Regions from separate parts of the Homo sapiens genome. Here region 2 is linked to region 1. Evidence: fine-mapped expression QTL. Tissue or cell type: whole blood. Region 1 holds a variant in brackets; the other region holds the start of a gene. All regions are shown on one strand. Distances are between the middles of the regions.

Region 1 (4,641 bases):
ACCTAAGCAGGACCCATTGTGTGGTCACCAGGCCTGGGCACAGCCCTCTTGGGGTTTGCACCTTCCAAACAGGCCTCACTAAAAACACAGCGTAGCTTTGACCATCTGTCTGTCTGCCTTGGTAGAGATTACTGTGTTAATTCGCTGCTACTCGGATGATCTCCTTAAAACACAGTTCTGCCATGCCACCCTTCCACTTAACATCATCCCATGGTTTACTGGCAGTCTTAGGTTAAAGACCAACCCTTGAGTTCCTGCCTCTTTGCCCTGTGCCTTTCTCCTCATCACTTCCTGGGTTCCAGCCACACTGGCCAAGCCCCCTCTTGTCATAGAGCTTTGCACATGCTGTTCCCTCTACCTGGATTGCTTCTCCCTCCCTCCCGCTGCCCACCTGGTTCTGGGTAAACATCACCGAGGCTCTAGATCCCTGTGAAAACCTTCCCCCACTGCCCTCAGCAGGTGAGGTCTCCCAAGTATGCAGACCCTCAGCGTCATGTGCTTTGAATGAACAACCACCACCCCCCATGGATAGCAAGTTTCAGGGATGGAAAGGAGCTTGGCACATAGTAAGACCTCAAAAATAATCTGTGTAATCAATGAAACTAATGGAGCTAATGGTTCCTTGAGAGCCAGGCCTCTATACTTCTATAGTTGCCCTAATGCAGAGGAATGGAATGCCCCAGAGGCCTCAGGCTCAAAGTGGCCAGGTACAATTAGGACATTTCTTTGACATCTGGTATTTTATCCTTGACAGTCAGATTTTACATTCTCCTCTGAGATATGTTTGTGTCCTATTTCATTATTCATTTCCCCTCCCTGCCCCTCCATCCTTCATCCTGCTTGGTGCTGCAGGACTATGGCACCCACTTTCTCCTGTAGCTTTGTCTGCTTTTGGCAGGCTTCCATAAACCCCATGGGCACGATCACCCAGTTCCGGAAGCACAGATTTAGAGTTTTCAGAATTCTGTCTCGTTTTCCACGCTGGCACCTTTTACCTGCTGTTGTTCGTGATCCCATTGGCTGCTTTAGGCTCATAGCCCCACATTTGGTGATTTTTCTCTACCTTTGGCCAACTGGATTCCCTTGTTACACATGCGAGCCAGTCTTGCTGGGTGTCCAGCCTGTCTCAGCACCCCAAATCAACGTGCAGCCCCCTTTCGTCTGCGGGGCTTGTGAAACATCTCCGGCTGTGGAGGGCACACTGGGCATCGTATTTCAAGCAGCACAGGAGAAATTTGCGCCACGGCCTTTGGCCTGCTGCTGTCTGTGATCTGTGGGCTGCATCGCGGCCCGCTGGGGGCAGGGGACTTATATTTCCATGGGGCCATGGAAGCTCTCCCCGAGTGTCTGTCTGGGGAGCTGGGATGTGAGGCACACACTGGAGACTCCTTTGTGCTGCTGCCACCTTGGCGGAGAGAGGGGACGTTTCAGACAGAGAGGCAGACGCCCCCACCCACGTGTCTGAGGGCAGCACAGCCTCGGGCAGCAGGAACAGATTTTTCAGGACACCTGCCATATGCTGCAGAGACCAGAGGGAAGAAAAGTTTCCATGACAGCCTGAAATCCTATTCTTCCCTCCTCCCCTCTCCCCAGGCCATTGTGGGCCACAAGGGGGATCCCCTTGCCTCGGGAAGTTTGGAGATCTGCTAATTTGGTACCAAATTATTCTGAGATAAGAAGAGCTGGGGTTCTTGCCCCCCCACCTGTCAATCTCAGGTTTTTAAATCTGCTTCCAGATAGACAGGAAGGCTGGGC[G/A]CGGTGGCTCACACCTATAATCCCAACACCTTGGGAGGCAGAGGCAGGTGGATCACCTGAGGTCAGGAGTTTGAGATCAGCCCAGCCAACATGATGAAACCTTGTCTCTCCTAAAAATACAAAAATATTAGCCAGGCCAGTCGGATAACCTGAGGTCAGAAGTTTGAGACCAGCCTGACTAACATGGAGAAACCCCATCTCTACTAAAAATACAAAATTAGCTGGGCATGGTGGTGCATGCCTGTAATCCCAGCTACTCAGGAAGCTGAGGCAGCAGAATCGCTTGAACCCGGGAGGCAGAGGTTGCAGTGAGCTGAGATCATGCCATTGCATTCCAGCCTGGGCAACAAGAACGAAACCCCATCTCAGAAAAAAAAAGCAATTAGCCAGGCGTGATGGGCGCCTGTAATCCCAGCTATTCAGGAGGCTGAGGCAGGAGAATTGCTTGAACCCAGGACAGGGAGGTTGCAGTGAGCCAAGATGGCGCCATTGCACTCCAGGCTGGGCAACAAGAGCAAAACTCCATCTCAAAAAAAAAAAAAAAAAACAGATAGACAGGAAGCAGAGATGGGATTTTCTCACCTACCTACAGCCCCTTCTGCCCCGTCCAACAGGGCTCAGCCAGGGACCCATGTCTGCGGGCCACAGGAGGAGGCAGAAGAAGCGAGAGCATTTCGTCATTCCACAGTGGACATGTGGCAAAGACACCCTCTCTCCCTCAGAGTTCATTGTTTGCGTCTCCTACCTTAACACAGGATAGAACTCTACCATAAATATAGTATAGAGATCACTAAACAGTAAATGAAGTTGAGCCTCCCTCTTCTTTAATCTTTCATCTTATACAGCACCCCTCCTGCAATGTCTTTTTGTTCTTCCTGTTGTTTAATTAAAAGGATAATTTGACAACGTGGAAATCCCACAACTTCCAGGTGAGTTGGCTTTGGCAGTGCCCCTGAATCATCGGCATCACAGCGGCTGTGGCTTCCTTCCTTACTGTTCTTTCTACATGCTGGACCCCATGCCAGGCACTTTACACACATCGCACGGATCCTCACGACCAGCCTATGCGGTCGTGCTGTCACCCGCCCTTTTTATAGGTTCAGAGAGGCCACAAAACTTGCCCAACTTGTAGTGTGGGGTTGTGTTTGTGGGTTTTTTGTTGTTGTTGTTTGTTTGTTTGTTTTTGTAAAGAAAAATACAACCAGGCACGGTGGCTCACACCTGTAATCCCAGCACTTTGGGAGGCTGAGGCAGGCAGATCCCTTGAGGCCAGCAGTTCAAGACCAGCCTGGCCAACATGGAGAAACCCTGTCTCTACTAAAAAGAAAAACCCACAAAAATTAGCTGGGTGTTGGTGGCTCATGCCTGTAGTCTCAGCTACATGGGAGGCTGAGGCTGGAGAATTGCTTGAGCCTGGGAAGCAGAGGTTACAGTGAGCTGAGATCATGCCACTGCACTCCAGCCTGGGTGACAGAACAAGACTCTGTCTCAAAAAAGAAAAAAAAAGAGAGATAAAATTCATGCCACAACATAAAATTCAGGATTTTAACCATTTTCAAGTGTACGGTTGAGTGGTGTTTAGCACCTTCACGCTCTCTCTACTTCCAGAACATTTTTATCACCTTAAAAGGAAACTTCGTACCCATTAAGCAGTCACTTGCCGTTTCTTCCTATCCCCCAGCTCTGGCAGCCACTAATCTGCTTTCTGTCTGTATGGATTCGTCTATTCTGGCTATTTTATATAAAGGGGATTATACAATATGTGACCATTTGTGTCTAGCATTGTTCTCTTCATACAGAATTTTGAAGGATCATCCATGTTGCAACATGTATCAGTACTTCATTTCTTTTTTTTTTCTTTTTCTTTTTTTTTTTTGAGACGGAGTTTCGCTCTTATCGCCCAGGCTGAAGTGCAGTGGCATGATCTCAGCTCATTGCAACCTCCACCTCCCAGGTTCAAGCAATTCTCCTGCTTCAGCGCCCCACCCCCCACCCACACCGCCCCAAGTAGCTGAGACTACAGGTATGTCCCACTATGCCTGGCTAATTTTGTATCCTTAGTAGAGGCAAGGTTTCACCATGTTGGCCAGGTTAGTCTCGAACTCCTGACCTCGGGTGATTCACCCGCCTCGGTCCCACAAAGTGCTGGGGTTACAGGCGTGAGCCACAGTGCCCAGCCTTCATTTCTTTTTATGACTGAATAATATTCCATTGTATATCCCACAGTGTGTTTATCCAGTCATCTGTTGATGGATGTTTAGGTTGTTTTCACCTTTTGGCTGTTGTGAACAGCGCTGCAGTGAATATTTGGGTACCAGTTATATTTGAACACTGGTTTCTAATTCTTTTGGGTATATGCCTATGGGTTGGATTATGGGTCATGTGGTAATTTTATGTTGGACTTTTTGAGACACCTTGGAGGTTTGCTTTTGCTTGGTGGTTGCTGCCTGGAGATGACTGCAGTATTGAGTCTTTGGCCCCAGGGCATGGACCAGCCTGAGGAGGGAGGGAGGGTTGGGGAGAAAGCCAGGAGGGCAAGAGGTGACCTTTTGCTAGGGTAGCTAGGCCTTAACTGTAAGACCTTATTATTTTGCACAAGAAGTGTGAGATACGTTTTTACTTTTAAAAACCTGAAAGCATTTAGCCAGGTGTGGTGGCACGTGCTTGTAGTCCCCGCTACTTGGGAGGCTGAGGTGGGAGGAACTCTTGAGCCCAGGAGGTGGAGGTTGAAGTGAGCTGAGATCTTGACACTGCACTCCAGCCTGGGCCACAGAGCCAGACCCTATCTCAAAACAAACAAACACAAAAAACCTGAAAGGTACAGAAGTACCTAGTGTGAAAAATTAGTTTCTCCCCTTTGCTCACAGTCCCACTCCCACAGTTTTG
Region 2 (4,641 bases), 35 kb before region 1:
ATCCATATGAATTCCTTCTCTGACGGCATACCTACTCATGTCTTGCATCCATTTCTGCACGTAGGGTGTTAATGTTTTACATACCGATTTATCAGAGGTCTAGAAAGTAGCATCAACCTTTTGTCACATTTGTTAAAAATATTTTCTCAAATTTGTCGTTTGCCTTTTTGGCAATGATAATTGATGTATCTAGATCCTGCATATTTATTCAAATTTGTCTACTCACCTTGCCTTTGGTTTCTTCCCATGTCTTAGTATCTAGGCCTTCCCCTCCGTATAATTCGTGTATGTTTTCTTCTTATCCTCTTGTGATTTGCTTGTTTGTAGTTCTCTGAGTTCTTATATTTATTTTGGTGATATTTAAACAAGTCCTTAGTTTTACTTTTTTCCCCCAACCTAATTTATTAAATAATTTAGCCGTTTATACTTGTCCCAACAAAGTGAAATGCCACATTTATCATACAGTGAATTTTTAAATATATTAAATTTTCCTAGACTTTCAGTTATTCCACTGATGCTTAATCCATCCATTCTTGTGTGAACACTACACTGTTTTAACTATAGTGTTGCAATATGCTTTAAGATTTGATAATACAGGTCTGTCCCCCCAGTTTTTTTGTTCGTTTGTTTGTTGAGACGGAGTTTCACTCTTGTTGCCCAAGCTGGAGTGCAGTGGCACGATCTCGGCTCACTGCAACCTCCGCCTCCCAGATGCAAGTGACTCTCCTGCCTCAGCCTACCAAGTAGCTGGGATTACAGGCGTGCACCACCACACTCGGCTAATTTTTTGTATTTTTAGTAGAAACAGGGTTTCACCATGTTAGCCAGTTTGGTCTCAAACTCCTGACCTCAGGTGATCTGCCTGCCCTTGGCCTCCCAAAGTGTTGGGATTACAGGCGTGAGCCACCGCGCCCCGCCATCCCCCCATTTTTAAAATATAAATTTCTTAGCTTTTCTCGCAGATATTCTCCCATTTGAAGGTTAGAAAACATGTTAAGTGCCCCCTCCTCCAATCTACCCACAACCATTAAAATTTTATTAAATAGAGTAATTTGGGTTAAGTTGGTGTTTGTGCCTCTATTCCTTCAAGCCTTCTTTATTATGTTTCAACCTTTGTAATGTCTTCATTAAGAGCCTGCACATTTATTCAGTTTATTTTTAGGTATCTTACACTTTTAAAATGGTTCGTTTGTTTTACATTAAAACTGCTCTTCAAGGTCCAATTGAAGCTTATCAAAGCTGATTTAATTTTTTTTTCCCAGGTGTGTCTTTATGTGCAGGAAAGCAGTCAGAAACTAAAGGCTCTTCAGTCACAGTTGTTTACTGAGTGTTCACTTAATACCTGGTGTAGTGATTATCCCTTTACACGCATTATCTCCTTTAATTTTCAGCAGGTTGGTTTAACTTTTATTTCCATTTTACACACGAGGCTCTGAGTTTGAGGAACTTGACAAAAATCACCCAGTTGGTAAGTGGATTTGATTCCAAATTTGTGAATCTCCAAAACTATCACAAAAATCAATCAGCCAAGAAGGATAGCCCAATGCTATGCCATCAGATGGGCTGACTCAAAAGGATGACTTTCCAAAAGCAAGCAATTGAATTAAAAAGACAATGTTTTCCATCCACCGGACCCGGCAAAAAAAGACTGGTTTTCCTCCAATGTGAGGCATAGTTCATATTCTGCAGGAGCACAATAATACCAGTGACTTAGGCTCCTTTAGAATTAGGGACTCGTGGGTGAACAAGGGTGGTTTTTCTGCAGCTTTCACTGGAATTGTCCGTTTGGAAATCTACCTCCCCATGGCAGGGCGGGTTTCAAAGAAGAGGAGAACAAACAAAAAACAAAAACAGGAAAAAAAAAAAAAGAGAGAGAGAAAGAAAAACAGGTGGAACCGACGTAAGGATGGCTAGAGCAGTGCGCGCGGAAGGCAGAACTTTCTGGGGGCGTCCTGTCCGCACGTTTCACGCGTGGTGCGCGCAGGTGGCGCCGCGGTCCCTTTGCTCCCTGCGCAAGCCGGAGGGGTGCCCAGAAGGCTACCACTAGCCTCAGCGAAGGTGAGAGAGAAGCTTTCCGCCGAAGCGAGGGAGGAGGGCGGGCAGGAAGCGGAGCCAGAGCTGGCAAAGAAAGGCTCCAATTCCCAGCCCCCCGCCCCGCGGGGCGCGGGGGCGCCGGCAGCGCATGCGCGAGGCCCGGCCCCCAATTCCCCCAGCGAGGGAGGGAGGCCCCCGGCGGCCGGGAGCCTGCGAGCCGCGGCGGGACCCGAGCGCACGCAGGGGCGCGGCGACGGCGGGGGCTAGTCGGGCTGCGGAGGCGGCCGTCGGGAGTGCGGAGCGCCTCGGACGAGGGTCCAACCGCCGGCAGGCACCAGAGGGCACGGCTGGCTCGGCACTGGGAGGGGCCCGGCGCTCGCAGCCCCCCACGCCCAGAGAGGATGCGTGAGTTTCGCCCCGGCTCGAGGGCAGGATGTGGGAGCAGGACAAAGGCTGGGCGGCGGGGGAGGAGTTGGGGACGGCGAGCCTGTGGCCGCCGCCAGAGCCCCAGCCTCGAGCGAGCTAGCGGAGTTGACAACTTTCTCTGCAACTTTTGCAAAAGGGAAGATAAAAATTCTGCAAGTTGTTGCACAGCTCCATATCGCCCCGTGTCCGGCGAGCAGAGGGGAGGGGGCACCGCAGCCTTCCGCGGACCAGAGGCGACCTCCAGCTCCTCTGAGCGGCGCAGGAGGGGGCGCCCGCCGGGGCCCGGGGCCAGGGGCGAGAGAGGATAGGGACACCGGGGGTCGGAGCCCGGGGTACGCTCTGGCCGCTGAAGTTGCCCGTGTCCACGCAGGGTGCGCCCTGAGAGCCGGGTAGCCTCGGATAGCGGCGCTGCGTACGCGATGATGGATGAGCCGTGGTGGGAAGGGCGCGTCGCCTCGGACGTCCACTGCACCCTGCGCGAGAAGGTCAGTCCCTCCCTGCCCTTGTCACTCTCAAGACTGGGTACAGTCTCCTTCGGTCTCGACTTCGTGTTCTCAGGTCGCCTGCGTGGGAACTCAGAACTCCCGGGTGCCTTTTTTTCCTCTTACCCTTTACCTTCTCCCGGAGTGTCTGAGCGGAATTGGGGGGCGGGGGTTAGAGACTGGAGATGGGAGAGATTGAAGTTGGTTTTTCTGATAAGGAGCTCAGAACTCTGGGCCAACTAGTCAGAGACAGCCACTGTACCTCTAAGGCAGTGTTTCCTATAGTATTGCCACCCTAGGTTATTTTAAACCGTACGTGAAGGGGTCTTTAAAAAATATTGTGTATTCATTCTAATGTGTAATTTAAGAATGTGTATGTATCTAGCAAGCTCTGCGTTTGCGATTTTCCATTTATTGTAATAATGATGTCGCAGTTTATTTTAAAACAAATTTAAGTAAAAGTAGTAACTCTATATAAAGATAAGTGGTAGTACAGGGAATACATGGTTATGGCCAAATACGTGTATCTATGTGTATATCTAGAATGGGACCGAATGAAATTTAAGGAACACCTGTATAATTGAAAGAGGCTACAAAACAGGGAGGCTGAGGGAAGAAAACAAAAACTCCCCTGCCGGTTTGCCTCCTGTGGCAGAAGGTGGGTGGGAGCAGCTGAAATGTGATCCCTGCACACCCCTCCCCTCAAGGAGAGAAGGGCTGAGGGGCATTGGGAAGGTGGAAGAGTCCAGGTGGGCTGGAGGCATGGCCTGTGTGTCTTGCCTCCAGTCCCTGGGCTGAGATTGGCAAGGGGTGGCTTGGGGAACAGGTGTGAAGTAGTGAATGGATTGGTTTCCTAGGGCTGCCATTACAAAGGACCACACAAACTGGAGGGCTTAAAGCAACAGAAATTTATTTCAGCTCTGGAAGCTGAAGATCCCAGATCAAGGTGTTAGCAGGGCCATGACTCTCAAAAGGCTCTAGAGAAGGATCTTTCCTTCTTCCTTCTTAAATTTGCTGGTGCTTGGTCATCCTTGGCATTCCTCGGCTTGTAGGTACATCATTCCAGTCTCTGCCTCCACTGTCACATGGTGCTATCTGTCTGTCTGTTTTCTCTTCTTACAAGGATACCCGATCATTGGAGTAGAACCCACCCTAATCCAATGTGATGTCATCATAATTTAATTACATCTGAAAAGACTCCATTTCCAAGTAAGGTCACATTCTGAAGTTCCAGATTAACATGACATTTGGGGGGACACTACTGCGCCCAATACAGGGAGGAAAAGGTCTTCCTAGTGCAGTACCTGAGCCCCCACACAGGTTTCACAGTCAGTGCATTTGCTCCGAGTGTCTGGAGGAGTTCTGCTTAAAGGGTCACCAGCTACTCAGTGTTTTTACCTCATTGAGTAGCTGTCTTCCTGTCCAATTAATGCCTTTTTCTTTTCTTTCTGTACCTGCTGACCTGTCTTTGTCCTGCGTTGCTTGGCAAGGCTGTGGCTTTCATCTGTTCCCTTGGTCTTCTTCCCAGAACAGAGTGGCCAACGTGTGGCACATTCTAGGCATCTGGACAAGAAGAAATCCAGGTCTTGTTGGTTCAGTTGAAAAGCAAGGAAAGTGGTAGGGGTATGGTCCTGGCCCTTTTCTGGAGGAGGTGGCTGAATGGAGCTAGTGAGGACTGCCGTGGAAATTGGGCTTCCTT

Evidence for each region. PIP is the estimated chance that this variant, and not a neighbour inherited with it, causes the effect.
Region 2: it holds the start of CCNJL, and the variant in region 1 is fine-mapped to the expression of CCNJL in whole blood (TOPMed, PIP above 0.99).

The regions. Positions count from the first base shown.
Region 1 is chr5:160,275,406-160,280,046 of GRCh38, reverse strand. The region is part of intron 3 of CCNJL (cyclin J like); the gene reads left to right. Among named protein-coding and RNA genes, the nearest start is that of CCNJL, 35 kb to the left of the region's middle. RefSeq lists an enhancer at 765-1,292. The variant G/A (reference allele first, on the strand shown) is at 1,756.
Region 2 is chr5:160,310,162-160,314,802 of GRCh38, reverse strand. CCNJL (cyclin J like) reads left to right here and starts at 2,239. Exons shown (of 6, transcript NM_001308173.3): 1 at 2,239-2,439; 2 at 2,831-2,945. The coding sequence starts at 2,880. RefSeq lists silencers at 2,021-2,080, 2,191-2,310.